4 linked regions of the Homo sapiens genome follow. The protein of the gene in region 3 interacts with the protein of the main gene of each other region in a pairwise test. Each region holds a gene or a part of one and is shown on either strand. Other genes may lie near its edges. The genes, in order: PLLP, ADIPOQ, TMPRSS2 and BNIP3.

The links.
Region 1: the proteins of TMPRSS2 (region 3) and PLLP interact in binary tests that used the Homo sapiens proteins (3 or more experiments, as listed by UniProt).
Region 2: the proteins of TMPRSS2 (region 3) and ADIPOQ interact in binary tests that used the Homo sapiens proteins (3 or more experiments, as listed by UniProt).
Region 4: the proteins of TMPRSS2 (region 3) and BNIP3 interact in binary tests that used the Homo sapiens proteins (3 or more experiments, as listed by UniProt).

What each region holds. Positions count from the first base shown.
Region 1 is NC_000016.10:57,274,673-57,281,672, forward strand, and holds part of PLLP (plasmolipin), read right to left. Parts: intron 1-7,000. UniProt on the Homo sapiens protein: Main component of the myelin sheath that plays an important role in myelin membrane biogenesis and myelination. Plays an essential function in apical endocytosis. Regulates epithelial development through the regulation of apical endocytosis.
Region 2 is NC_000003.12:186,838,764-186,845,735, reverse strand, and holds the start of ADIPOQ (adiponectin precursor), read right to left. Parts: upstream 3,027-6,972; 5' UTR 2,987-3,026; intron 180-2,986; exon of another isoform or gene 129-179; intron 1-128. UniProt on the Homo sapiens protein: Important adipokine involved in the control of fat metabolism and insulin sensitivity, with direct anti-diabetic, anti-atherogenic and anti-inflammatory activities.
Region 3 is NC_000021.9:41,505,129-41,512,116, forward strand, and holds the start of TMPRSS2 (transmembrane protease serine 2), read right to left. Parts: upstream 3,031-6,988; 5' UTR 2,953-3,030; intron 2,938-2,952; exon of another isoform or gene 2,877-2,937; coding exon of another isoform or gene 2,822-2,876; intron 1-2,821. UniProt on the Homo sapiens protein: Plasma membrane-anchored serine protease that cleaves at arginine residues. Participates in proteolytic cascades of relevance for the normal physiologic function of the prostate.
Region 4 is NC_000010.11:131,978,922-131,986,183, reverse strand, and holds the start of BNIP3 (BCL2/adenovirus E1B 19 kDa protein-interacting protein 3), read left to right. Parts: upstream 1-4,260; 5' UTR 4,261-4,377; coding exon 4,378-4,423; intron 4,424-7,262. UniProt on the Homo sapiens protein: Apoptosis-inducing protein that can overcome BCL2 suppression. May play a role in repartitioning calcium between the two major intracellular calcium stores in association with BCL2.

The sequences.
Region 1 (7,000 bases), on a different chromosome or scaffold from region 3:
GAGCTCCTGACCTCAGGCGATCTGCCTGCCTCGGCCTCCCAAAATGCTGGGATTACAGGTGTGAGCCACTGTGCCTGGATCAAGAGTAGTTTATTGTTTATTTTTTTGAGATGGAGTCTTGCTCTGTCACCCAGGCTGGAGTGCAGTGATGCGATCTTGTCTCACTGCAAGCTCCGCCTCCCGGGTTCACACCATTCTCCTGCCTCAGCCTCCCGAGTAGCTGGGACTACAGGCGCCCGCCACCATGCCCGGCTAATTTTTTGTATTTTTAGTAGAGACGGGGTTTCACCGTGTTAGCCAGGATGGTCTCAATCTCCTGACCTCGTGATCCGCCCGCCTCGGCCTCCCAAAGTGCTGGGTTTCAGGCGTGAGCCACCACGCCCGGCCAAGAGTGGTTTCTTATGTGTGTCTCCAGGGACTTCACACACACACACACACACACACACACACACACACATGCATTTCAGATAAGTGTGTCTTGTATCTGTGTACTTCTTCCACACAAATGATAGCATGCTACAATTTTGCACCTTGCTTTTTTCACTTAAATAGGTAGCCTGGAGATTGTCCATCCTTATACACAGAGCTGTTGCATTGTCTTCTTTGAGGGGTGGGGGGATATCTTTTTACTCACTGCATCATGCACCATTGTACAGATGTATCATAATTTATCTAAACTAGTCCCCATTGATGAACTTGTATATATCACATATATAAGCTAATTTTAAAAAGGAAACTTAAATCACTAGGAAGTGGGAAACCTGTATTATCTGTCACAATAGAAGCTAACAAGGTAATTAAATACAACAAATATGTAACAATGTTAATACATTCCAGACAGATACAACTGGAGTGAAAAAGACTGAACTATGATTCAATTTCCAGAACCCAGAAAGAAAAAAGGAAGAGGAATGAAATAAAGAAATTCAGCAAAAAAAAAAAAAACACTACAACAAAATTTTGCAAGGCAAAAAAAAAAAAAAAAAAAACACCATGAGAGGGGGAAAAAAACCCAGCAAAACAAACAAATTAGGAAAGAAATATTTGCAAATAATCCAGAACTCCTAGCAGTTATTAAGGCAAAGACCAACCACACTCAGTAGAATGAGCAAAGAATACAAACAGACAAGGAAATACAAACGGCTCTTAAACATCTTTTAGATCCTGGCGCCGCGCCTTGCATTTATAATTTCAGCACTTTGGGAGGCCGAGGCAGGAGTACTGCTTGAGCCCAGGAGTTCGAGACCAGCCTGGGCAATATAGTGAGACCATGTCTCTACCAAAAATTAGCTGGGCATGGTGAGGAGCACCTGTAGTCCCAGCTACTCGGCAGGCTGAGGTGGTAGGATGGCTTGAGCCCTGGAGGCGGAGGTTGCAGTGATTCCTGATCGTGCCACTCCACTCCAGCCTGGGTGACAGAGTGAGATCCTGTCTCAAAAACCAACAAACAACCCAAACACATTTTTTAAAAGGTCAACCTCACTGATAAGAGACTGAAAATAGGCTAGGTTTGGTGGCTCATGCCTGTAATCCCAGCACTTTGGAAGGCTGAGGCAGGCAGATCATCTGAGGTCAGGAGTTCGAGGCCAGTCTGGCCGACATGGTGAAACCCTGTCTCTACTAAAAATATAAAAATTAGCTGGGCATCATGGCTCATGCCTATAATCCCAGCACTTTGGAAGGCTGAAGCAGGCAGATCACCTGAGGTCAGGAGTTCAAGACCAGCTTGGCCAACATGGCCAAACCCCGTCTCTACTAAAAATACAAAAATTAGCCGGGCTTGGTGGTGGGCGCCTGTAATCCCAGCTACTCGGGAGTCTAAGGCCAGAGAATTGCTTGAACCCAGGAGGCAGAGGTTGCAGTGAGTCAAGATCATGCCACTACACTCCAGGCTGGGTGACAGAGTGAGACTCTGTCTCAAAAAAAAAAAAAAAAGAGAGAGAGAGAAATGAAAATAACACTACATTGACCTATCATTTTGGTCTATTCGATTGGGGCACATCCAGAAGTGTGTTAAATCACCATGTTGGGAGGCTGTGGGAACAGGAACCTTCCAGGAGGCATGCTGTTGCAGGCAGGAAGGGTGTGACCTCTCCGGAAGGCATTTGGCAATCTACATCACAATCCCAAATGCATGTATCCTCCCACCCAGTAGTCCCACTCCTGGAAACATATCGTACAGATGCACTTGGTGGCATTTCTTGCAGCAGGGTGCGCAACAGCAAAGGAATAGAAAACCCGAAGTGTCTGTCAACAAAGGGACTGACCACACAGTCACACCACAGCTGCATGGTGGAATACTATAGAAGCCATAAAGAAAGAAGCAATTGCACTCCACACACTGAGACAAAAGGACCCCCAAGATTCATTTTTTAAGTGTAAAAGAAAAAGTGCAGAAGGATGTGGCTAGACTATATATCTTGGGGAGACTATATAAACTGGGAGAGAGAGGAATCTAGAGCCACATTTGCATAGGTCTCCTTAAAGAAAGTCTTAAAATGGGATATAGAAAACTGAGAGTGGGCATGAAGGAGTCAACTTTAACCAAAAGGGAACAGAGATTTTTCACTGTACTCCTTCCCTGTCTATTTTATTCTTGAGCATTGTAAATACATTACCTATTAAAGAAATTAGGGGCCGGGTGCGGTGGCTCACGCCTGTAATCCCAGCACTCTGGGAGGCCGAGGCGGGCGGATCACCTGAGGTCAGGAGTTTGAGACCAGCCTGATCAACATGGTGAAACCCTGTCTCCACTAAAAATACAAAAATTAGTCAGGCCATGGTGGTGCGTGCCTGTAATCCCAGCTACTTAAGAGGCTGAGGCAGGAGAATCACTTGAACTTGGGAGGCAGAGGTTGCAGTGAGCTGAGGTCACGTCACTGCACTCCAGCCTGGGTGACAGAGCAAGACTCTGCCTCAAACAAACAAAATAAAAATAAAGAAAAAGAAATTAGGTAATAAAGGTATGAAAAAGATGGACACAGCTTGCTGTGCACTGATACAGAATATCCCTAGGTGTATTGCCCTGGGGAAAAGCATGGCTTGGCACATGCCCAGACAGCACCTATCTGTGGTTAAGTGAGGATGTGGGTTTTATGTAGAAATATGCATCCACTCACCCTGGAATGAGACACAAGGCATGTGGTTGCCTGGGGTGAGGGCAGCTGTGGGGCGTGGTCAGTCAGGGATGAGAGAGATTACATTTTCTTGATTACCCTTTCTACTATTTGAGTGCTTTGTATTATGTCTCTGTAATTTTTTTTTCAAAGAATAAAACAATTCCATCAGTAGAGAAACAGCTAAATGAGCAGAGGCTGCCGGGACACTACGGGTTACTCCACAACAGTTTACAAGGAAGGAAGACAAGTCTCAAAACATGAAGAGTGGCCAGGCACGGTGGCTCATGCCTGTAATCCCAGCACTTTGGGAGGCAGAGACAGGCAGATCACCTGAGGTCAAGAGTTCAAGACCAGCCTGGCCAACATGGTGAAGCCCCGTCTCTACTAAAAATACAATAATGAGTTGGGTGTAGTGGCAGGCACCTGTAGTCCCAGCTATTCGGGAGGCTGAGGCAGGAGAATGGCGTGAACCCGGGAGGCGGAGGTTGCAGTGAGCTGAGATTACGCCGCTGCACTCCAGCCTGGATGACAGAGCACAAGAAGAGCTCTCAGATGCACCAAGTATGAGAAAAGCAACTTGCTGAACAAAGGATACAGAATAAAACTATCAATGTTTTCAAAAGTGCACAGGAAAAAAGACTAGAAACACCCCAAATAGTTGTCCCCTTAGGGACAGAGGTGGGTAATCCAACTACAGCTTTAGTGTAATCTGTACAGGTTTTTTTATTTTGTGAGGAGAATGTATTCATATATTCATAATGTAATTACACATTAATTCCCAAACACTCAATACTCCCCCCCTTGCAGTAAGTGGGGAGTGTGGGGGGAACTAACAATACAAGGCATTTATTGCTCTGTGCAGTGGAGCTGGGTTGGATGAAGATATTGGGCATGCGGGGCCTGGAATGCTGTACTAAAAAGACTGAACCACCCACAAATCTCAGTGCTAAGGGAAGCCCCGGGAGTCTCAGACATTGCAATCCGAGTGTGACCAAGCCCTGCTCACACCTCACTCGGACTCCAACAATCTCATCTAGGTAGCCCCTTCCTGGAGACCAGAGTTGGCTTTCAGTCCCTGCCCTGCCCTTCATCTGCAGAGGAGCTGGTCTGCCTCCTGGGGCCGGAGACAGAGCCGGTATCACCATAAGGAAGAACTTTCCAACACTCCCAAGTGCCCAAGGATGGAGCAGGCAGCCTTAAGAAGAACTGAGCTCCCTGTCTCTGGAAGCATGCAAGTTCATGTTGGAGATGCTGCAAAGGCACCTCTTATGCTTGCATAAGAACCCTCGGATCCTATAACCCTGTGAATCCAAACTGTCCTTCATTCCCACATATAGTGCTAGGCTAGCTCTTTGCAGGCATGATCTAGATCCTGCCATCACCATCTGACAGACAAGGAAGTGAGGCTCAGGGAAATTTGGGAACTCCCCCAGGATCATGCAGCCAGAAAGGGACAGAGCCAGGATTTGAACCCAAGGCTCTCAGCGTCCAGGCCTGTGTTCCCATCAGCACTCTCCATGCCACCCCATGGATCATGGAGATCTAGGGAAGGCTTCTCTTCTTCTTCTTCCTTTTTTTTTTTTTTTGTTAAGAGTAGAGGACTGGGTACAGTGGCTCACACCTGTAATCTCAGCACTTTGGGAGGCCAAGGCAGGTGGATTGCTGGAGCCCAGGAGTTCGAGACCAGTCTGGGTAACATGATGAAATCCCATCTTTACAAAAAATATAAAAACTTAGCCAGGCATTGTGGCATGTACCTGTCGTCCCAGATACTCAGGAGGCCTGAAGTGGGAGGATCGTCTGAGCCTGGGAGGTTGAGGTTGCAGTGAGCTGTGATCACACTACTATAGTCCAGCCTGGGTGACAGAGCAAGACCTTGTCTCGAGGAAAAAAAAAAAAAAGTAGGGGTCTTACTCTGTCACCCAGGCTAGAGTGCAGTGACGTGATCATGGCTTACTGCAGCCTTAAACTCCAAGGCTCAAGCAATCTTCCTACCTCAGCCTCCCAAGTAGCTGGAACTACAGGCATGTGCCACCCTGCCACCTGCCTAGCTAGGTGAGGCTTTTGATCTGTTATTCACCTGCAAAGTGGGAATTGTGTGGCCACCCCCAATCCCAGGAGGTGGGGCAAAATGGAAGGACAGAAGGTACCAAACCAAATGGCCTTACCGCCACAGGGCATTCACACAGCTTCCACATCCTGGGCCTCAAGGACGCCTACTGACTGACAGGTCTCTGTACAAGCTCTGGTCTGTCCTGATCCTCCTTCTCCCTTCCTATGCCAGGAAGCCCTCCCTGATGGCCTTGGCCCCTGATGAGTCTCCCTTCCTGCAGTCCCCCTTTTCCCCCTAGAAAGCACTCTAGAACTTCCCACCCCCAAAGTAAACAAGATGAGGAAGCATAGCTAGAGCCAGGTTTTGGATTTCCAGATCGAAGTGCAAAGCCAAGCTTGCCACTCTATCCTGTGTGACCTTGGACAAGTTCCTCACCCTCTCGGAGCCTATTTACTTATCAGTAAATCCAGATAAGATCATCCTTCTCCCCACGGCTTGGGGAGGCTTGAAAAAATGAGAGATGGGCACCTAACAGCACTACTTTATACTTATTGTAAAAAGGCTTTGGGAGCTCCCCATAAGCAAATAACCACGCCTTCTGCATTCTTCCACCTGAGCTACACAAAAATCTGTAGCACTGATGCCTTTTTTTTTTAAAACCAAAAGAGTTATCTGTAGATCAAACTTGCCTGCCTTGTGACATGAATCCATTGGCAAGAGAAAACAAAACAAAACAAAACAAAGACCTGCCTCCTTTTTTAGACGCTATCTGCATAGATTCTTCATGTTTCCCTTTTTGCCTAGGCTGCTAGGAAGTTCAACAAATAATCAACAGCCTTAAACTTGCTGCAAGTCAATTCTCCCCTCCACACCACCAGCTTTTAAAGATACATCGCTTTAACTCTTCTGTCTTATGTGGTTTAATATCATATTCCATCTGGTGTTCTTTCTGAATCTACAAGGAATAACGATAGTGATAAATCAATGAACACCACCAGACATCTGTGAAGAATACTGAGATTGGTTCTTCAGGACACATTCTGATACCGAATGAAAAGTGTATCTCCTTCTCCAGGAGCTGGGAGCCTTTCTACCCACCTCCCCTTCCTCCCACCATACCAGGAACATTCATCAAATCCTGGGAAACAGAAGGGTTTGATGGAGAATTAGCTTCCATTTTCTCATTTATTTCCTGCTCCATGCAGCCTTCTCTGATCCCTCTGGGAGAAGCACATCCTCTGGGCACCTCTCTCACTGACCAAGAGCTCCTGGAAAGCAGGCTGTGGGCCCAGGGTCCCCACCACTCCCTCCATAATGACAGATCCTGGGAAGGTAGCAGCAAAGCCACACGTGGTCATTAAGACCATAGGCCAGAAAAGTCAGAAAAATCACTCCTGTGGAGGAGGGCTGTGAGATCTTGGGCAAAGAACTGGCCTCTGAGCCTCAGTTTTCTCACCTAAAATGGGGCCGACTAAGAAGATCTAAAGGCCTTGGCAAAGGGCCTGAGCCTAGTGCTGGCCTGATAGATGGGAGCTACCATGGCTTCCCAGCAGATGGTGGTGCCTGTTGGATTAACCCCCACATATCCCATTTCAGACCCAGTGGAACTACCTGTTGCCAGAGAAACAGCTCAGGATGCAGCTTCTCCAACAAGCAGATTTTTTTTTTATTTCTTTTTTTTTTTGAGACGGAGTCTCTTTCTGTCTCCCAGGCTGGAGTGCCGTGGCGCCATCTCGGCTCACTGCAAGCTCCACCTCCCGGGTTCACGCCATTCTCCCGCCTCAGCCTCCCGAGTAGCTGGGACTGCAGGCACCCACCACCATGCCAG
Region 2 (6,972 bases), on a different chromosome or scaffold from region 3:
GATGCTAGCTAATTCAACCACTGGATTGAATTATATCAAACTCCCATTTTTAAAAGTCAAAATGGGCCGGGCGCAGTGGCTCATGCCTGTAATCCCAGCACTTTGGGAGGCTGAGGTGGGTGGATTACCTGATGTCAGGAGTTTCAGACCAGCCTGGACAACATGGTGAAATCCCGTCTCTACCAAAAATACAAAAATTAGTCAGGCGTGGTAGCGGGCACCTGTAATTCCAGCTACTTGGGAGGCTGAGGCAGGAGAATCACTTGAATCCATGAGGCAGAGGTTGCAGTGAGCTGAGATCGCGCCACTGCACTCCAGCCTAGGTGACAAGTGTGAAACTCTGTCTCAAAAAAAATAAAAATAAAAATAAATAAAAGTCAAAGTGTAGAATATTGGCAGTTTCACACGGTGCAACCCAATAATAAATGGCATAACCAGGAATCAACTCAGCTTTGCCTAGCTCCCAGGAGCTTTGCCCGAAAGCCTTCACTCAGCCCTGGGAGAGCTGTCAATATCTCCATGCCCAACACACACACATACCCGCACCCATACACACACCTCCACCTATGCACGCGCACACCCACACACCACATCCACACATCCACATACGTACGCACCACCCCCCCCCACACATACACACCCATCCAAATGAGTGTGCGCGCGCGCACACACACACTCACACACATACATACTGTCAAGGAACTAATAAAACAGAGCATCCCACGCACCACCACATTTTTAGGATAAGTCTCTCTCCACATGATTGAATTTCTGATTGAAATTCCTGATTGAAAGTATCTCTCCAAAAGACATCACCTCTTGACTTTAGCCGTATGTCTGGGACCACCGGTCCACTGGCTTGACAAGGAGTAGGTGGAAAGTTTGTCCCTACAGCCACCTTAAAAAGAGCAAGCATATAATCCCAGCCTTTTGGGAGGCTGAGGTGGGAGGACTGCTGAGCCCAGGAGTTTGAGGCCCCCCAGCCAATATAGTGAGACCTCATCTCTACAAAAAATTTTTAAAAATTAGCCAGGCATGGTTGCACACACCTGTAGTCCCAGCTACTCAGGAGGCTAAGATGGGAGGGTCACTTGAGCCTGGGAAATCGAGGCTGCAGTGAGCTGTGATTGCACCACTGCACTCCAGCCTGGGTGATAGAGTGAGACCCTGTCCCCAAAAAAGACAAGGAGCCAGTCTTGTGTCTATTTTTTTTTTTTTTTTTTTGAGATGGAGTTTTGCTTTTTTTGCCCAGGCTGGAGTGCAATGCTGTGATCTCAGCTTAAGACTCCTCGGCCAGGCGCAGTGGCTCACACCTGTAATACCAGCACTTTGGGAGGCCGAGGCAGGTGGAATATGAGGTCAAGAGATCGAGACCATCCTGGCCAATATGGTGAACCCCATCTCTACTAAAAATATAAAAATTAGCTGGGCGTGGTGGCGCATGCCTGTAGTCTCAGCTACTTGGGAGACTGAGGCAGGAGAATCGCTTGAACCTGGGAGGCGGAGGTTGCAGTGAGCTGAGATTGTGCCAAAAAAAGACTCCTCAAGACTTAAGGAAGAGTGGCAGCAGGGACTGCTGAGGAAGCTGCCGGGCTCCCTGTGTACCACTGGCCTTCATGAACAAAGCTGACACCATCATGCTCCTTCGGACATATTCTGCTAGCATAAAGGGACCCCCATCTCCCCAACCGAATTAGGCAGAGCTGGCCTTCCTTCTAGCGGAGTTCCTAGGAGTGAGTTGGTGCCACCCCTTGTGAGGCTTGATCCAAAAACCAGAACCTCTCCAGACCAGGGATCCATGTCCTCTAACACAAGAGGGGCAGACCTAACCTCTAAAATCCCTCCCACTCTAACCTTCAGCATCCACAGCTCAAAACAACCAGGATGCCTCAGAAACAGCACTCACTGGGGCGAGCAGGATTAGGCTTCAGAAAAACCAGGTAGATCCAGTTTCTTCTGTCAGAAAATGTTTTTTTTTAATTACAATTTTTCATAAGTTGCCACTATATGCCAGGCTTTTCTCATTTTATCTCATTAGAGCCTCTTTTTCTTTTCTTTCTTTTTTTTTTTTTTTTGACACAAAGTCTCGCTCTGTCACCCAGGCTGGAATGCAGTGGCAACAATCTCGGCTCACTGCAACCTCTGCCTCCCAGGTTCAGACAATTCTCCTGCCTCAGCCTCCCGAGAAGCTGGGATTACAGGCACCTGCCATCACGCCCAACTAATTTTTGTATTTTTGGTAGAGGCGGGGTTTCACCATGTTGGTCAGGCTAGTCTGGAACTCCTGACCTCAGGTGATCCACCCGCCTCGGTCTCCCAAATTGCTGGGATTACAGGTGTGAGCCACCATGGCTGGCCTCATTAGAACCTCTTGATTACCTTGTAAGATATCCCTATACCTACATATATCCCCAAATCCATAGACAACAACCATGTCACACTCATTGTATCTTGTGAACCCAATCCACTGTCTAGCCCATAGAATTTGCTCAGTAAATATTTGCTGAGTAGAATAAAGTGGCAGAGCTGGATTCCTAATTCCAGTCTGAAGTCAGTGCTCAGCTTGACTTTTCTGAAGCTGCCTTCATATATGCTTCTTCCTTTGCCCTACCTGGTCAAGCTAAGAGGCAATGTATTCCCTTATCCCCCTTAATCGAATTGGACTTCATCTGTGGACAGACCCTTCCACCTTACTGACCCTAACTTTTTCTCAATAGGTATCCTGCTACAGAGCGAACTGGGCAAAATTCAGAATGGTTCCATGCATCTTAGAAGGAATGTCTGAAATAACCCTTTCTCTCTTGGGGCTGTGGGAGAACGGAGGAAGAAGCCCAGTGCATATCTGCCTCCACCAGTGCTGCTCTGACCAGAGTATCCACCTGTATCCACTCCCACACTACTACGGACGGGAGAGCCTGGGTGATCCCAGCCAGAGGCTATGCATGCATCCCCCACCCAGCCTGGAACTTCACAGAATTGCTCTTACCCTCTGGTATGGAATCAGAACCACAGACTGCAGTCAGAATGGAAGTGAGGAGGAGATGGCCCAGCCTCAACAGCCTGGTACTCACGGGGGCAGGCAGTCCCCACCTCACAATTGTCATTTCCCATTGGCCAACTCAGTGAGGGCCAGAGGCCGGTGGGCAGGCACATGTCCCTGGCAGTTGCCCACAGCCTGCACCCTAGGGAACCTGGTACAACCCAGCTTGGGCTTCGGAAGCCAAGTGGAGCTTCAGTCAAAGCACTTGTGTTTCCAGGCCTTGACCCTTATTTTGCCTCCTACAACAGCAACAGAAGATGGGGCAAAAGTCAAAACCACAGCAGGAAAACAAGATTTTTTTCCTGCATCTGACGGAGAAACTTCCTAATGTAAATGAATTAATTGCTCAGTGGTCCAGGAGGTCTCCCCCTCCCATAGATTTGCCCTAATAAGTCAGGGACGCCAATTATCACACCACAGTCTTGCTCACTGTGCATGATTAAGTCTGAGACTGTGTACGTTCAGACAGTGAGTGCTTCAGAAGGGAGCACTGTCAGAGGGGTCTGCAATCAGGTAAGAAATAGAGCACATCCTCCACTCTCTGACCTGGACCCTGGATTTAGGAAAGACCTTGCACATGAATTCTGAGAACTGGGGTGTGGGGAAGTTCCTGGAGTGGTGTGGGGCTTGGCAAGTTAAAAAGGCCCTGAATTCTTAAAGCTTGTGGCCTCGAATCGTAATTTGAATCTAATATAATAGAAAACTTACATAAAATGTGATATTGGAATACCATCTTTCAAGATTTTTTGGTTCCAAAATTTCGGATAACATTTTGACAGCTACCTTGGTATGTGTGTGTGTGTGTTTGTGAGAGAGAGAGAGCCTGTTTTTCCAGTTCCTTAAGCATATATATGCCTATTCTGTCTCTTGTGGAACCCAGCTCTGGCCTAGAAGCAGCCTGGAGAACTGGAAGCTGCCACCCACTTAGGTGTTCCTAGAAAGTTTAGGCTTGAAGTGGCAACATTCAACACCTTGGACTTTCTTGGCACGCTCATGTTTTGTTTTTGAAGGGCAGGATCTGAGCCGGTTCTTGCAAGCCACACATTCTGATGAATTAAATTACGACCCCAGCAAGGGCTTAGGATGCCAGCACCAACTTCAACAAGACATCCAAAACAGAATTTTCTCAGACAGAGGCAGGGCAAGTGTCTGCCTGCCCCCCAGATATCATCTCCACAGTCCACACAGAGCCTAAAAATCTACCAGTAAAGTCAAGTCCACCATTAAAGTAAAGATCTGATGTAAAGCCTCAGCTTCCTGCTAATGTCCAAATATTTCAAGAGAAGTCACATTAGGCCGTTGAGATGAGAGACATGAGAGACTTTCCAAGGTCCCCCGGCTTAAATAAGTGGCCCATGAAAATGAGGTTCCATATAGTTTAGCAGGCTGATTGAACCAAGAAGACAACAAAAAGAAATAGAAGCAACTCTCAATTATATCACTGTTTGATTTTTGTTATGGTGTTTTCCTATTTATTTTTGGTTTATGTTACTGTCTGTTGCTATTTAATAGAACATAAACTTCAGGTCAGGTGCAGTGGCTCAGGCCTGTAATCCCAGTACTTTGGAAGGCCAAGACAGGCATATCACCTGAGATCAGGAGTTTGAGACCAGTCTGGCCAACATGGTGAAACCCCATCTCTACTAAAAATGCAGAAATAGCCGGGCGTGGTGGCACATACCTGTAGTCCCAGCTACTTGGGAGGCTGAGACAAGAGAATCACTTGAACCCAGGAGGTGGAGGTTGCAGTGAGCCAAGAGCACCATTGCGCTCTAGCCTGGGTGACAAGAGTGAAACTCTGTCTCAAAAAAAAAAAAAAAAGTAAACTTCAGGAGAGCAGAGATTTTGCCTATTCAAAGTTGTATCCCTTAGTTCCTAGAATAGAACCTGGCACAAAGTAGGCAATAATAAATGTTGAATTAATGAATAAATGAATGATCATATTCAACTTTCCTTTGGAGATAACTATTATTGTCTTTCATTTTACAAATAATGAATCTAGAGTTCAATGAGGGTAAATAATTTGTTCAAGGCACAAGTCTAGGATTTGAACCAGATCTGTCTAACTAAAAATCCCTATGCTTTCTAATTCCTCATGCCCTTCACCCCTCTTGATGGAGTGTGAGGCCTCAAGGTTGATGTATGTGCTTCAGGGTAGTTTCAGGGCTGGCATAAAAAGTATTTTCTTTGGCCGGGCACAGTAGCTCATGCCTGTAATCCCAGCATTTTGGGAGGCTGAGGCGGGCAGATCACTTGAGGTCAGGAGTCTGAGACCAGCCTGACGAAGATGGTGAAACCCCGTCTCCACTAAAAATACAAAAAAGTTAGCCGGGCGTGGTGGCAGGCACCTGCAATCCCAGCTACTCGGGGGTCTGAGGGAGGAGAATCGTTTGAACCCAGGAGGCGGAGGTTGCAGCGAGCCGAGATCGCACCATTGCACTCCAGCCTGGGCAACAGAGCGAGAATCCATCTCAAAAAAAAAAAAGTATTTTCTTCTAACTTTATAAGAATGCAGCTGGTTAGAGAAAGCTGTAGCTATTGCACAAGGTGGAATAACTTTAGCCCCACAATCACACCAAGACTGTGCTGGGCCTGGCTGTCAGTCAGTGACATTGTGAAAGCCTAGCATTTTGCGAGGCCTCAGGGCAATCTGCCACCCACCACAAAGGCCGTCATGTGGAAAGAGCCAGTTCTGTGGCATACTGGTTTAAAGACTGTAATTGAAAAACATTCAATCAGAAATGCCTTGAGGCTAGTCTTTTTCCCAGGACAGAACTATTACTACTTAGACCGAAATAACCAAATAAATGCGATCATTTCCTCCAGGGTACCGTAGCTACAGGTCAAGCCCCTGTTAGCATGTGAGTTGGGATACTGAAACAGGCCAAATCACTTAATTTATCTTAAATATGTTTAAGCATGGCCATATATTTTTGCTTAATTATGATTTTTAAAAATAATCTTAACTGAAGTAACCAAGCATAAGCACTGTATTTTGAAAAATAAAGATTGGAGCAAGATGGTAGAGTGAGCACGCCCTGCAGCAATGTACGCCATCCCCAAACCCCTAGAAATGGCAAGAAAGGAGAACATTTCTTTATCTTTTTTTCTTTTTTTTTTTTTTTGAGATGGAGTTTCACTCTTGTTGCCCAGGCTGGAGTACTATGGCATGATCTCAGTTCACCGCAACCTCTGCCTCTCAGGTTCAAGCGATTATCCTGCCTTAGCCTCCCGAGTAGCTGGGATTATGGGCATGTGCCACCACGCCCCGCTAATTTTGTATTTTTAGTAGAGACAGGGTTTCCCCATGTTGGTCAGGCTGGTCTCGAACTCCCGACCTCAGGTGATCCACCCCCTCGGCCTCCCAAAGTGCTGGAATGACAGGCGTGAGCCACCGCGCCTGGCCAGGAGAACATTTCTTTATCTCTTCTGAAGGTATGGCTACGGCTGTACTTCTGAAGTATCTCAGATGATAATTTAAGTATCTGGTTTGCTACTGCATGATTTGGACTGTCACCTCCTGCCACCGACCAGAAGGCCATCATGATTCAAGCGCAGTCAATGCAGGTAGGCAACCCTGAATTCATACTTTTTAAAGCCTGTGTCCTTGGACTACCCCCAATACTAAAAAATTGTACTAGTCAAGGTACAATAATTTTAGAAAGGCTGGAGAAGCAAAGGGAGATGATATTGCCTAAAGACCAGGAATCGGTGACTGCTCCTGGACCATAGCCTATGAGCCTGCGCTTACTGCATGTCTTGCTAGCTGCTCCACCATTGCCACTGAACAGGAGCCACTGTCACCGCCACTGCCAAGGGCGCTCACTGAAACACAACAGCTCCTCCCTTCTTCCCCACTTCAGTCTTTTCACGGTTGTCTCCCATGTGCACAAGCTAACTGGTACCCATCTGGCAAAGGAATGTAGGATGTG
Region 3 (6,988 bases):
TGAACAAGCACTCCATTGACCATTCACCTTTCCTTTCTACCTCAATGTCCAAGGCTTAGATCTGATCAGTGCTCCCCAAACCCAGAATTTTCAAGAGGGCTTAGAAAAATAAATAAATAAATAAGATGCCTGGGCCCCATTCTCAGAGTCTGATGTAATAATTGGGACCAAGGCAATGATCCCATATTATTACGAAGATCCCCTAGGGAATCTTGCCGCAGATTCAGGTGGAAAAGGGTAAGAGTTATCAGCCAGACTTTTGGTTTACATTTCCTGGTAGGGGGACAACACACTCGGATGATGATGATCGTGGTGGTGGTGGTTACTGGCATAAGGTACTGCACGCATCTACCTTTTCACCTACAGGACATTTGCACCAGCGTCTTGTCACTCAATGCCCCCATGGCCTAGGAGGTCAGCCCTCCGCAGGCCCCCTTTCAGAGTTCCAGGCACTCTGGCCATGTCATACTGCTAGAGGGAGCAGCACGGAGCCCAGGTAGGGCTGTGGGCAGGGGCTGGGCTCTTTCAGGTCGGGGAGAACCAGAGCCTGGCCCAGGAACAAGCCCTTTTCAATCAGGATTCCGGGCGCCTTGTTTCCAGCTTCCTTCCCTCCTTTCCTCCACTTGCTGGTAACATTCCAACATCCTGGAGGGAGAACCCAGGGAAGGATCAAAAGGAATCCGTACTGTGCCGATTGTCACTAAAGCCCCTTCTAAGCATCCTGTGTCTCCAACTCAGAGCCCGACACTGGAAGCACTGACCTATGGAGCCAGACAGGCCATGTTTATCCCCAGTTCTGCCCCTTACAGGTTACAAGATCTTGGACAAGCTTCCCAACCTCTCTTCCCCAGTTTCCTTACAATTGAGTTAAGTACATTATAAAGGGTTTGCAATGATGCCTGGCTGAAAAAAGTGCCACATCAATGTCTGTGGTTATTATTATAATGCCAGTGCAGCCAAATATACTCCTACAATTAAGGTGACTTGAGTTCAAGATAGAGTGGCCAACGGTGCCAGGCAGGCCAGCACCTAGCAACCTGGGAGGCCCTGCCTGAGGCTCCAGCAACAGCACAAGCTTGTTGTTAGAAGGTTGTCCTTGGCTGGTGGGAATAAGGGAAGCTGCTGGGGACCAAACAAATGTCCAAGCAGAGAACAAAAGCCCAGCCAGCTCACCAGCTGATAATTAAAAATAACCAGAGGCCGAGGTGTAGATGGCCATCTCCAGGCAGAGGTCTCAGCCCGTAGGTTGCACCCCGAACTCTCCAGCCTAGTGTGTCCTTACCCGAGGGTGTTGCTAGGTTTCATTCTAACCTCACCTGTCCAGTAGTTCTGTAGCGGAGCAGGGCAGGTCCTACTTCTTCAAAAGCACTCAGTAAAGGTGGGGAAGTCCTGAGCAACCTCCAGTGACTTTCTGGGGGAGCTCCCGGTTACCTAGCCCACCAGGTCCTCCCTTCACAGCAGCAGCTCAGGAGCCAGGACTGACTTAGCTACTTGCGTCCCCAAGGCCCTTTGCGCTGGTAAACTCTCCCTGCCACACTCCCAACCCCCATCCTTCCTTCAGGGGAGGCTGGCTGCATCCCCACTTCCTGGAGTACCTTCCCAGATCTCCTGGGACAGGTCAACAAACTTAGTCTCACTTTAGGTTTTCCAAATGCCTTGTAACTGGGCTGCGTAGCCTTTGTAATTTTCCATGATTCGGGAGGTTCTCGCGGCTGGGAGCTCCGTGAGGTCAGGCATTGCCTTGGGCGCGATGCGCTCATCTTTCCCGCGGGACCACTGCACAGGTTCGCACGGAGGGAAGGGCTGCGCAGCCTCGAAGGCGAGCCCTGGGTGCTCCCTGCCCACAGGGCTCACCTCGGGCCGCCGTGCTATCCTTTCCTTCCCAAACAAGCCACCAGGATTCCTCGTGATTAGGGCTGCCACCAGGGCGTTCTGAACAGGATTCAGGGCCACCGCGCTGTGCTCTACGGCGGAGCGGGCGAAGGCCCTCCTCTGCCACAAGCGCTCAGGGCTCTCGGCGCACAAACTTTCTGGACATGGGGCAGTTTTTCAGCTGGACCCGTGCTCGAGCAGAGCGCCCACTGCCAGACTGGAGCACTTGACCACTCAGGGTGCCACTGTGCCGAGCCGGGCAGGACAGGATGAGGTGGACCGAAGCGCCCAGGTGCCCCGCCTTCCCCCCAACCCGGCACGGAGCGCAAGCGGAGGAGCCAGACCGGCTCCTCCCGGGCGGGTTCCTGCCGGTGCCGGGTGTCCAGGAGGCCCCGGCCCTGATCGCCGCCAGCGGGTCGCCGCAACGGGGCCTGAGTCGCGAGCAGTCCCTCCCCGAGACTGACTGGCCGTTCGCACCTCGCCCGGGGGCCCTCCAGCAGCCTGGCCCAGCGGTCCCCGCCGCGCCGGCCGTATCGTTCCCGGCATCTCAGCGAGTTTCCAGTTTCTCCCTACCTCAGTAGGGAACCAAGAAGCAGAAGGAGTTCAGGTAACACTGCGGGACTGCAGAGATTTCCCCCAAACAAAGAAGCCAACCGACAGCACTCCCAGTCCTCCTCCCCAAAGAGAAAAGGCGCACCGGTGCTCCCAGGCGGGGGCCGTGGAGGGCAGGCGGACTAGGAGCCAGCTTTGGGGACCCCGGGGGACTCTCTTCCACCAACTGGCTAGGGACTCGCAGGACCACCTGCCCCAACCTCGCGATGCCAAGCCAACAGGGGCGGCGAGGGCTCTCGGCCGTGCGCAAGGGGTCCCAGGCGCCCAGCACTCTCCCAGCACCCCGGGAGGCGCCCTGCCCGGCTGGCCCCAGCGCTCGACCCTCGGGCGCACTCACCTGCCGCGCCGCGCTCCTCACACCCGCTTTCACCTCCGGGCGGGGCAGGGGGCATCGGCGGGTCCCAGGCGCCCAGGTTCCCCTCCCCAGCCCGGACCCCGAGCCGGGACCCTGGTACCGGCGCCGCTCACCTGCCGCGCTCCAGGCGGCGCTCCCCGCCCCTCGCCCTCCGCCTCCGCCTCCGCCTCCTGCTTAGCTCGCGCCTACTCGGCCCGGCCCGCCCTGGCTCTCGCTTTAATCTCAGGAGGCGGTGTCCCAGGGTCCAGGGCGACACCCCCAAGCGGGTCGCGGGTCACCCTGGGCGGGCGGGGGCGGGGGCGGCGGGAGGAGGCGTTTCCCAAGGGAAGTCCGGGACGGGTTCCCTGCCTGGCTCAACCCCGGCTGCGGAGGGACCCATAAGGGACTCTGGGGCGCTTCCCGGGCCCGGCCACAGCGGCCAACCTGCCCCTCTCCGGTCCGCGGCGCAGCGCTGCCCGAGGGCTCGAGTTTGGGTTAAGGAAGGGGATTCTGGGGAGCGCTCCTGGAGTCCTGGGTGAGCCCCCGGAGCTGCTACCTCACGAGCTCCTGTAGGCGGCCGGCCCCGTCTTGGCCTCCGGGGAACCCACTGTAGCCTCTGGGCAAGGACCCAGGGTAGGCCTTGGGGACTGCTGGCCCAAGCACGAGTGGCGGGGACACAGCGCCGGACGCCCAAGACCCTCCCCAGTCCGCCTAGGCTGGCATTTCTTGGCCCCCACCAGCGTCCGGTGGAAAGTGCTCCCCCGGATGGTCCCAGGTCTCTCGGCACCACCGGCCAGGGCGGGAGTGAGGAAGTGGTGGGACACACCTCAGCCAGGAAGACGTGGCTGTTCCCGGGCACTTGAGAGGTTCTTTCTAATGTTTGCAATTGTGGGGGCTCAGAATTCACCAGAATTTAATAGGACCGTAGACCAGAATTCATCACCCCAAGTAGGACTGGAGGAGACCAGAATCTGCTACCCCAACATAGTCCTCTTTGGCACATTGATGATTTGGAACTGGTTATGTTGAGGAACTGCAGACACCAGAGTACCTCTGAGAAAATGCCCTTTTGTAAAGGAAATTTGCACCTATAAAGGAAATGTTTGTTAGTCAGCAGATCTGTACCAGGAAGAGAGCTGTTCCCGGACAACTTTTATCACCTGGGAAACTTTTATCTGCCTCACACGGCAACCTGCGTTCACCAGACACCTCCTCTCCTCACGCTCCCCTCACTCCTCCACCGCTCCCCAGAAGCCTCAAACCCCCATTTCTTTCTGTCACTCAGAGTGACAGATAAGCCTCAATCATCGGGCTGCTGCACCTTTTTTTTTTCGTGTGTTTTTTTTTCCCCCAGAAGGGGTCTCACTCTGTTGCCCAGGTTGGAGTGCAGTGGCTCAATCATGGCTCATGGCAGCTTCAACCTCCCAGGGCACAAGTAATCCTCCCACCTCAGCCTCCCGAGTAGCTGGGACTAGAGGCGTGTGCCACCACGCCCAGCTAATTTAATTTTTTGTAGAGATGGGGGTCTCCCTATGTTGCCCAGACTGGTCTCCAATCTGGGCTCAAGCGATCCACCTGCCTTGGCCTCCCAAAGTGCTGGGATTACAGGTGTGAGCCCTCGCACTGGACCCCTCACTCACCTGGCCTGTTCTTTAAGTCTCATATTCTTGTGGGATTCCCATCTGTGAGTACATACATTAAAACAGCTTTTCTCCTGTTCATCTATTTGATGCCAATTTAATTTGTAGACTAGCTGAACGAACTAGAAGGGTAGAGGGGAAGCATGTTTTCTCCTCCCCTGCATAATATACAAATCAACATGATTTGCTTTAAAATGAGGTGGAAGCAGAAAAAAGCCCCATTCAGTCCCATCCCAGGCTGCCTTGGCTCACTGCTCCCTTCCTGGGAAGCTCTCCCGGAAGCCTCCTGTGGGGCAGGACTTTCCTAGTAAACCCTTCCCTCTCACTCCCTCCTTTGGCACCTTTTGTGGTCTGCTGGTGGCACCCACAACAGGGATTGTCCCCAATATGCCCCAGCCCTCCCCATCCCCCACACTGCCCTGCGCTCTGCCCCAGTGGGAAACCCTCAAAGACCCTCTCCAGCACATAGGGCAGGTGCAGTTGTCTTTCAGCGGCAACTCACTTATTTCTGTCTTGACAGTGTGTTTGGTGCCTACTAATTCCACCCAGAAACCAGGGAGTAAGTGCTGCCGCAGACTCAGGCCTCTTGGAGTGGTTGTTCATTCACCATTTATTTTTCCTTTTATATTAATAATCAGGGTTCTCCAGAGAAACAGAAACAATAGGAGAAATACAAATATATACACACATATACATATGCACACACATGTATATACACACATCTATATTTCTATATATTATTTATAAATATTATAAATATCTTATATATTATAAATACATATAAATATATACATAAACATGTATTTTATATGCATAATATAATACAGATATGATATATATTATACACAGCTTATATGTAATAAATATTATTTATAATATATATAAAGATTTACTATAAGAAATTGACTCATACAATTATGGAGGGTGAGAAGCTCTACAATCTGCCATCTACAGACTGGAGACCCAGGAAAGCTGGTGTTGTAGCTTTCAAAGTCCTGAGAGCCAGAGAACTAGAGAGCAGATGGAACAGATTCCAGTCCAGGTCTGAAGGCCTGAGAACCAGGAGTGCTGAGGGCAGGAGAGGATCAAAGTCCAGCTCACACAGTCAGGCAGAGAGCAAATTCAACCTTCCTCCCCTTTTCTGTTCTATTCAGGCTCTCAACCGATTGCCCAAATTGAAGGCAATCAGCATTACACAGTCTTTTCAAACATTAATCTCTTCCAAAAACACCCTCACACGCAGACACCCAGAAATAATGTTTAACCAGTTACCTGGGCATCCCATGACCAAGTCAGCTTGACACATAAAATTAACCATGGCTGGATGCAGTGGCTCCCACCTGTAATCCCACCATTTAGAAGGCTGAAGTGGGAGGATCTCTTGAGCCCAGGAGTTTGAGACTAGCCTGGACACCATAGCAAGATCCTGCCTCTACAAAAAGTTTATTAAAAATTAGCCAAGTGTGGTGGTGCGCACCCGTAGCCCAAGGTACTTGGGAGGCTAAAGTGAGAGGATCAGTTGAGCCCAGGAGTTTGAGGCTGCAGTGAGCTTTGATTGTGCCACTGTACTCCAGCTTGTATGACAGAATGTGACCTTAGTTTTATCTAAGCATGAATATATATGCCACCATAAGTTGACCCCTTGTCGACTTCACACCTACACATCTCCTTACACCATACTTTATCTCTAAAGACAATAGCAAAGTAATAATTTTGCCTAATGTGATAAAACTCTTCTGCATACAACCAAAAAATGCACTAAGCCCTTCCCCAGAAGTGGATGTAAAATTCTCCAGTGTTTACACTTCTCCTTGGTATTCCATAACTTAAATACCATAATGTAAAATTAACAATACTTAATACAATGATATAAAGTCAATATGCCTTAAGTTATGTAATAAAGGAATATGAGAGAAAAGACAACAGAGATATATACTGTATATACAAATATGTGCACAAATGTATTTAGAAAAAAATAATGAGAAAATACTCGTGACAATCTAATGCTTTATAACAGGTTGCATGGGCAATAGCTGGTGTTTGTAACTGTCTTCTTCCACTACCCACTCTGCGTTCCCTCTGCCTTCGGGAAGCATGACAGCTGGTCATGGTTCTTAACCTGATGGAGTGATACAAACCTTCATTCCTCAAGGGTCTGGGCCATTAATAGCCCTGCCTGGATTGTGTTGTAGTTTTCCATTGACCTTAATCACAAGCATGGTAAAACTAAAAGATGCCCTAAGGAATCGTTGTATTCCAGACACACTCTTCCTTACCTTCCTGGTGGAGTAGAAGTAGTCTATAGCTTCTCCTTGGTAGTCCAGATGGGTCTCCCCAGCCAATGCATAACTCTCTCTTTGCCTTTTGATTCAGAGGCATGTGGAGCTCAGCGTGGCCAGGTGGCAGTCGTAAATTCTAGTTTAATTGAATCATTGTTGTGTCTCCTGGTGGCAGCATTCCTCCCTCCGGAACTAAGACCTCTAGGTCAGCAGAGCGTAAAGTCACAGAAACAGCAAGCGAAAATTTTGCT
Region 4 (7,262 bases), on a different chromosome or scaffold from region 3:
GACTAGGCACAGAATCCTCCCAAATCCTGGACCACTGAGGGCCTCTCCCACTCCATTCCTGCCTGTAGAAGCTGAGTTCTCACCAACTGCCTGCTCCCTGCTGTCCTGCCACACATGACAGCTTCATTGTCCACTGTTGCTGCCGGAAAATAACCGTTTTCCTTAAATATCTGCATCAGAGACAGCAGAGGCGATGACAATGGGTGAGTGAATCCAAAATTTAAGGACAGAGAGGTTTATTTCACTGAAACAAAGATTCCCTAAAACGAAGCAGGTGGATTATTCAGTGCTTGCTGGAGAGCATTGAAGAGAGGCTCCAAGGCCGGGCACAGTGGCTCATGCCTGCAATCCCAACACTTTGGGAGGTTGATGTGGGTGGATCACTTGAGGTCAGGAGTTAAGAGACCAGCCTGGCCAACAAGGCAAAACCCTGTGTCTACTAAAAATACAAAAATTAGCCAGGTGTGGTGGTGGGCACCTGTAATCCCAGCTACTTGGGAGGCTGAGGCTGTAGTGAGCCGAGATCACACCACCGCACTCCAGCCTGGGTGACAGAGTGAGACTCCGTCTCTAAAAAAAAAAAAAAAAGGCTGCAGGTGGGAGATGGCCTTGGGTGCGGGGAAAACAAGTACATAATTCCCAGAGGACAGTGAGATTCACCCAACAAGCCAAAGTGTGAGAGCTGATGGGTAGGGCTTTGGTGCTCCACCTTCCCGGTCAATTCCAAAGCCCCCCTTTTTTGAATAAGGACTTTAGCCAAGGCTCTTCCTGATGCCTTGCCCCAGTTCTTTCCTAAAAATGTAGATTGGAGGAGAACTCAACAATGTACTCAAAGGTCAGACAAATCTCTGCTTAGATGTTTTGAAGGGTTTGTAAAAACCTTTAAATAATATTCTGGAATGCCTGTTAGCCTCCAAGATCATTAGAATGACTCCTCATAAATTCTACTTTCCTCAGTGGCTTAAGTGAGGGTTTGGTTACCTAAGTTAAAAAGATACCAGCTTAACCGGGTGAATATACAAACCCACAAATTAGTAAGCTATGCAGATCAACTTCCTAAGACAATTCAGAAGGAAGAAAAAAACTAAGGTCTCAAAGATTATGAATTTGCAACTACAAGAACTGACTAACCAAATGAGGCCTTTTAAGAAAAGACAGGGCCTCCTTCTAATGACAAAAGGGCTGTTTGCTTCTACTGTAAAAAGCCTGGCCATTTCAAAAAAGATTGTAGAAAATTTAACAGCAGGACCAGTGAAAAACCAGGATCCCACATGATGAACAGGATTGCTCTGATGATCGAAGGGAGGTGTTCCTATTTCTACTAATGCCTTAGGAGAAATGGACATTGCCATAAATGAAGAACAGACACATGCCCTCAAAGACACTGGTGCCACTCTTTTCGTCCACTTTAAGTTGTCTCCTTCCTTGGAGTAATGGAACTGTACAAACGGTAGGGTTATCTCATCAGCCTATCACTGGATACAAGTCCAAGCCCTTAGAATCCCAGGGCCCTCATTCTTTTCTTCATTCCCCCACCTCTCAGACATCTCTTAGGCAGACATTTTGTGTTGGAACGTCACAATGCATGCTTTCCTTCTCCCAAAAGGAAGAAATGGATTTAGGTTTAGAATGGAAGGAGCAAATGGAAAAACTACAGAATGAGAAATTACTGAAATTATAAAAATACAGATCAAACAACTTTTTTTTCAACTGGCACTAATGACACGGATGGCTTAGGGCAAGCTTTGTCAGACCACTTATGGTCAGAGTCTTCCACCGACATTAGTAAAATATATTCAGCCACTTTCATTAAAGTGGAAGTAAACCTGATTAATCCTTTACCCAATATCAGACAATATCCTCTAAGGCCTGAAGCAAATGAAGGAATAAGATCCGTAACAAAAGACTATATTAAAAGGGGTCTAATTATTCCTTGCGCCAGCATGTAATACTCCAATCCTTCTTGTAAGGAAGCCGAATGGGAAGAGCTGGTATTCTGTACAAGATTTGAGAACCGTCATCAACACTGTGATCCCCAGACATCTGGTAGTACCAAAGCCCCATCCTCTTTCGGCAGCTGGAAGTGAGACACTGTGACTCATTTATGTAGTGCCTTCTTTAGTATTCCAGTGGACCTAGAGTCAGTATTTGTTTGCTTTTACTTGGGATGACTGCGAGCATATCTGGCCTATCAGGAAATATTGCTGATGAAACTGCTGCCTCCATCACAGCCCAACAAAAAGCTACTGACTCACTGGCTAAGGCTGCACTGGACGACTGCATTGCTTTCGATTATTAGCTGAGCAAGCAAGTCTATGTATGGTGGCAAATACCTCTTGATGTGCATAAACCCTTTCCACGAAGTAGAAACTCATATGGGAAAAAGTACAAGCCACTAGGCTACACTATTCTGAACAATTCTCCATTTGATTTTCTTCGTAATACTTTTAGTTGACTCCCTCGAATAGGTTCCGTTTTTCATTCTGGCATACACATTCTCTTTTTCATTGTAATCCTTATGTGCACCGTACTTGGTAACATTTTTGTTTTAATAGAGATGGAGTCTTTCTGTGTTGCCAGGTTGGTCTTGAACTATCAGGCTCAAGTGACCCTCCTGCCTTGGGCTCCCCAAATGCTGGGATTACACACAAGAACCACTGCCTGGCCAGCACTACAGTTCTACTATCGAAATTATTAATGCTATGCTATGTATCTCTGGCGGTTTTTTTTTTTTTTTTTTTGAGACAGGGTCTCACACTGTTGCCCAGGCTGGAGGGTAGTGGCCTGATCATGGCTCACTGTAGCCCCTACCTCCTGGGCTCAAGGAATCCTCCCACAGCAGGTGCCACCATACCCAGCTAAGTTTTTTGTATTTTTTTAGGGGAGAGAAAGCGTTTCGCCATATTGCCCAGACTGGTCTCCAACTCCTGGGCTCCAGCGATCCTCCTGCCTCGGCCTCCCAAAGTGCTGAGATGAAAGACATGCGCCCCACACTGGCCTCTGGATGTTTGTTACTCCTGAGAAAACTAAAATCATGGCACTCCAAAGACTAGAGACGATTCAACAGGCAAGAGCAGGGATGAAATGCACGCAGCGACTGAGGTCTGGCTTCGCGGCTCTGTGACCCCGGTTCAGCTTCTGAGCGCCTGGTTCCTTGGCGGGACGCCTCCTCCTTTCCCGCAAGACCAGACACGACTGTCTGGGAAGCAGCGTTTCTGGGGCGCACCTTGACACTTGGATTTGGATCAACAATGCTTTCAAGAAGAAAGACTTTTGATCAAAAGCGGGAAATGAGAAAGCGACTTTCCTCTGAAAAGTGCCTCCCAGTCCCGAGGCTGCGAGGCCCCCACGCCAGGCTGGCTCCCACGGAAGCCGGGCACCCACCCGGCCCGACCAAGCGCCACTCCGCCCCGTGGACGGGGCGTCCCACCCCGGGGACGCCCGCCCCACACCGCGTTTGCACCCCGGAGGCCCCTTGCCGCAGAGGCGGACGGCGCGCCTCTCCCGGGCCCCTGGGGTCCGCGCCTCCCTCGGGCAGACTCTTTCGACTCTGCTCGAGCCTCCGCTTCTTCCTGCGGGCGGACGCCCCGGACACAACGGGCCCCGCTGTTCACGCAGGGGCGCCCCGGCGGGGCGGGCAAAGACCCGGGGACGCGGTCCCGTCCCGAGACGCTCAGCTCCGGCCCACCGCTCGCAGCTCCCGCCCCGGGCGCAGGTCCCGACCCCACGGGCCGTCTCGGAGCCGCAGCGGCCGCTTCCCTGCACGTCCTCACGCCCCCCGCACGGACGCCGCCAGCCCCGCGCCTCAGTTTCCCCACTAGCAGGATGGAAAGACGGGCCCCGCCCCGAAGCGTAGCGGCGTCTCCGTGGTAGCCAGTGCCCAGAGAGTCCGCCGGTCCCACCGCCCCTTCAAAGGAGAACCCGGCCCACCGCCCGCCGCGGCGGCGACCGCGCAGCCCACTCGTCACGCGGCCCGCGGCGTCCAGCCCGGGCCGGCTCACCTCAGGCGGTCGCTGCCGCCCTCGCGCCTGCGCGCCCCTCGCCCCGCCCCTCTCCCCGCCCGCGTCCCGCGCACCGCAGGCCTCTGCCCCTCGCCCACCGCAGGACCCGCCCCGCGCACGCGCCGCACGTGCCACACGCACCCCACGCCCCTGCGCACGCGCAGGCCCCAAGTCGCGGCCAATGGGCGACGCGGCCGCAGATCCGCCCGGCCCCGCCCTGCCCTGTGAGTTCCTCCGGCCGGGCTGCGGGGCTCCGCTCAGTCCGGGAGCGCAGCTGGGCCGCGGCGCTCCGACCTCCGCTTTCCCACCGCCCGCAGCTGAAGCACATCCCGCAGCCCGGCGCGGACTCCGATCGCCGCAGTTGCCCTCTGGCGCCATGTCGCAGAACGGAGCGCCCGGGATGCAGGAGGAGAGCCTGCAGGGTGAGGCGGAGGAGGCGGCGCGGGAGCCGAGGGGGCGCGGGGGGGAAGCCTGGGGAAGGCCAAGAGGGCGCCAAGGGGAGGTTGCCGGGGAGGCCTAGGGGGCATCGCGGGCCGGGCGAGGCTGCGCCATCCTCCCCTTCCGTACCCACCCCTCCTGCGGGCATGCGGAGCCCGGGGCGTGGGGACCCCGCGTACTGCCCGGGGTTCGCGGCCTCGCCACTCGGGCGGGGGTTGGCTTGGACCCGGGTCGGACCGCACGGGAAAGCCCCGATTCTCCAGCTCCGCGCGAGCTAGAATTCCACCTGGAGGTGAATCTGCGTCTCGCAGTTGGACCGAACAGCCTCAAAGTCCACGTTGCCCTCCGCGGTCTGTAGTTCAGACCAGTATTGGTTTTAATGACCAAACACCAAGGCGTGGCAAGTGGCCTGTTATGAGCTTTAATTTTGTTATTAATGTTTATATCCATGGTGACTGTTAGGATTTCCTCAAGGGTGAACGCGGAGATGGGAGGGGGTTACAGCGTTTTTAAAATATGGCATTAAATGGGCATGTTCCAATTTCACTAGAGGGTCGTTCCAAAACAAAGCTTTAAATGACTTACGGGTTAAGAAAACACAAGCAAAAGGACGCTGCCCGTGCAGCACTCAGTCGTTACAGCCTGCCTAATGCCCGAGTAGAGGCTCGCTGTGTGCCCTTGGCTAGATTCGCAAGACCATCCGTTCACGCAGCGGGAAACGCAGGCCCGGGGTGCAGGACTTGCCCCACGCACAGCCGGGTGGCGTGGAGACCCACCCCACCCGGTGGGTCCGCGTCAGAGTCCAGACGAGCCTTTGCTCAGGGAAGCGGGCACTGAAGCCGCCTTCCCAGGGTCCCTAGGGCCAAAGCCTCGGAGGAGGGACCTGGTGGCAGCTGACCTTTGTGTTCTTTGAAGCCAGAGTTTACTAAGCAAAATTAGCATGTAAATAAGCTTGGGAAAGGACTGCTGAAACCTCTGACAGTGAACTTTTAATCTTCATTGAGAGTTTTTAAAACCATATATTCACATAAATTTAGTGAGTTGCTAATTTTATTACAAAAAAAAAGATTTTACTAGGCAGGACTTAGTTACCGTAATATATTGAATAATATATATATATACATATGAACACTACAAGCTTTTTTTTTTTACCTTTTTTTTTTTTTAAGAGACGGGGTCTCACTGTGTTGCCCAGGCTGGTCTGAACTGGGCTCAAGCGATCCTCCCGCCTCGGCCTCCCAAAGTGCTGGGATTATAGGCCTGAGCCACCAGGCGCGCCTGGCCTAAAACCATATTCTTTAAAATCCTGTAATTCGGATTTTTCCTCTTGAAATTTAAACATTGGCTAATTACTATTTTGAAATAGATTAAGAGGTGTTTTCCTATCTTTTGTCATAAAATAAAGTCCAAGGGATGTTTTTATAAACTCTTTGCCATAAAATCACCCATTTTCCGGTTGTGAAGCCGCGTTACTCCTGACATTGTGCGTTTCACTGTCCGGCTGGGATCTGGGCGCTGGGAGGTGGAGGGGGCTCCGGGGGGCTCGGTCCTCTCTCCAATATGTAACTTACACAGGCTGCTGAGTCATTGGCAGTGCAAGGCGGCCAGCGCCGGAGTTACGAGATTTTTGTTTTTCTGTTTTGTTTATTCTATAAAAAGATAGTTACCCGCGGGGTGGATCCCATGTAGGCGATTCCTTGGGCCGCCCTGAGTGTCCGCGCGGCAGGACGGGGCCACTGTGGGCTCGGCGTGGGCGGGGTTGGCCGGTCCCGCGGGCTCCAGCTGCCTGCAAATCCGGGACGGAGCGGTGGCTCAGGCAGCGCTCACCTCTGCCTGTCCGATTTCACTGCCCCTTGTTGACCTCGGAACAGAGAACAATGGGAGCCTTGCAGCCAGACCCACGGATGGAAGCAGCAAGCACTCTCTCCTCTGAGTGTACCCTCTGGGGCCAACTGCTTTTCCTAAAGAGTTAATGGCAAAATGGGCTGATTCTGTTCCTTTCTATCTCTTGATCATTCTAGCTAAAGTTGTTGACTCGCAGGATGCTCGTATTTGTCCTTTTCCTTTTTTTTACAAGCCCAGTCTTACTCCCCCAGGCTGGAGTGCAGTAGCACAATCATTATAGCTCACTGTAGCCATGAACTTGGCCCTTTTCTCCTAGACATGTCACTGCTAACATGCAGGAGAGGTAGGATTCTGTGACGAGACCGTGTCACGGTGGCGGGGGCATCACTTCCTTGAAGGACCCACTGTCTTCACCAGGAGGGCATCAGTTCAGTAAAGTGCATGCCCATTTACTCTGGAGGGCCGTGTTTAATAATCCAAGCCCTCACCTCTTCACCCACTGCTGTGTCTGCAACTGGCAGATGGTTCTCTCTCTTGTCAGAGGCAACTCACCATGGGCAAAGTTGTATGAGGGGAAAAGATGTTTTCTACTTATTTTGGAGTGGAGTTGTAGCATTGTGTGCTTTGAGACCTGAAGGGGTTGCAGACATCGAGATTCTCGTCCAAGACTTGCATTTCATAGATGGTCACAATGAGGTTCTAGAGGTGGAGTGAAAGATAAGGCTGGCAACAACACTTAAGGAGAAGCCAAGGTCTCTGCATGAGGCAGCAGTGGGATACCTGGAGCCCAGATGCCTGAGGCTGCGTGCAATAGGCCCTGGAGGGTCCTGGAGGAGAGGAGGCCAGAGGTCCTGGAGGCAACAGGAAGGTGGAGGGAAACGAGCCCCGTTGGAAGCCAGGGACCTGATTTACCTACCCAGCTGACTTGATACTTGAAATCTTTTGTCAGGCGGGTCTCTTTTGTTCTCTCCCCACTAA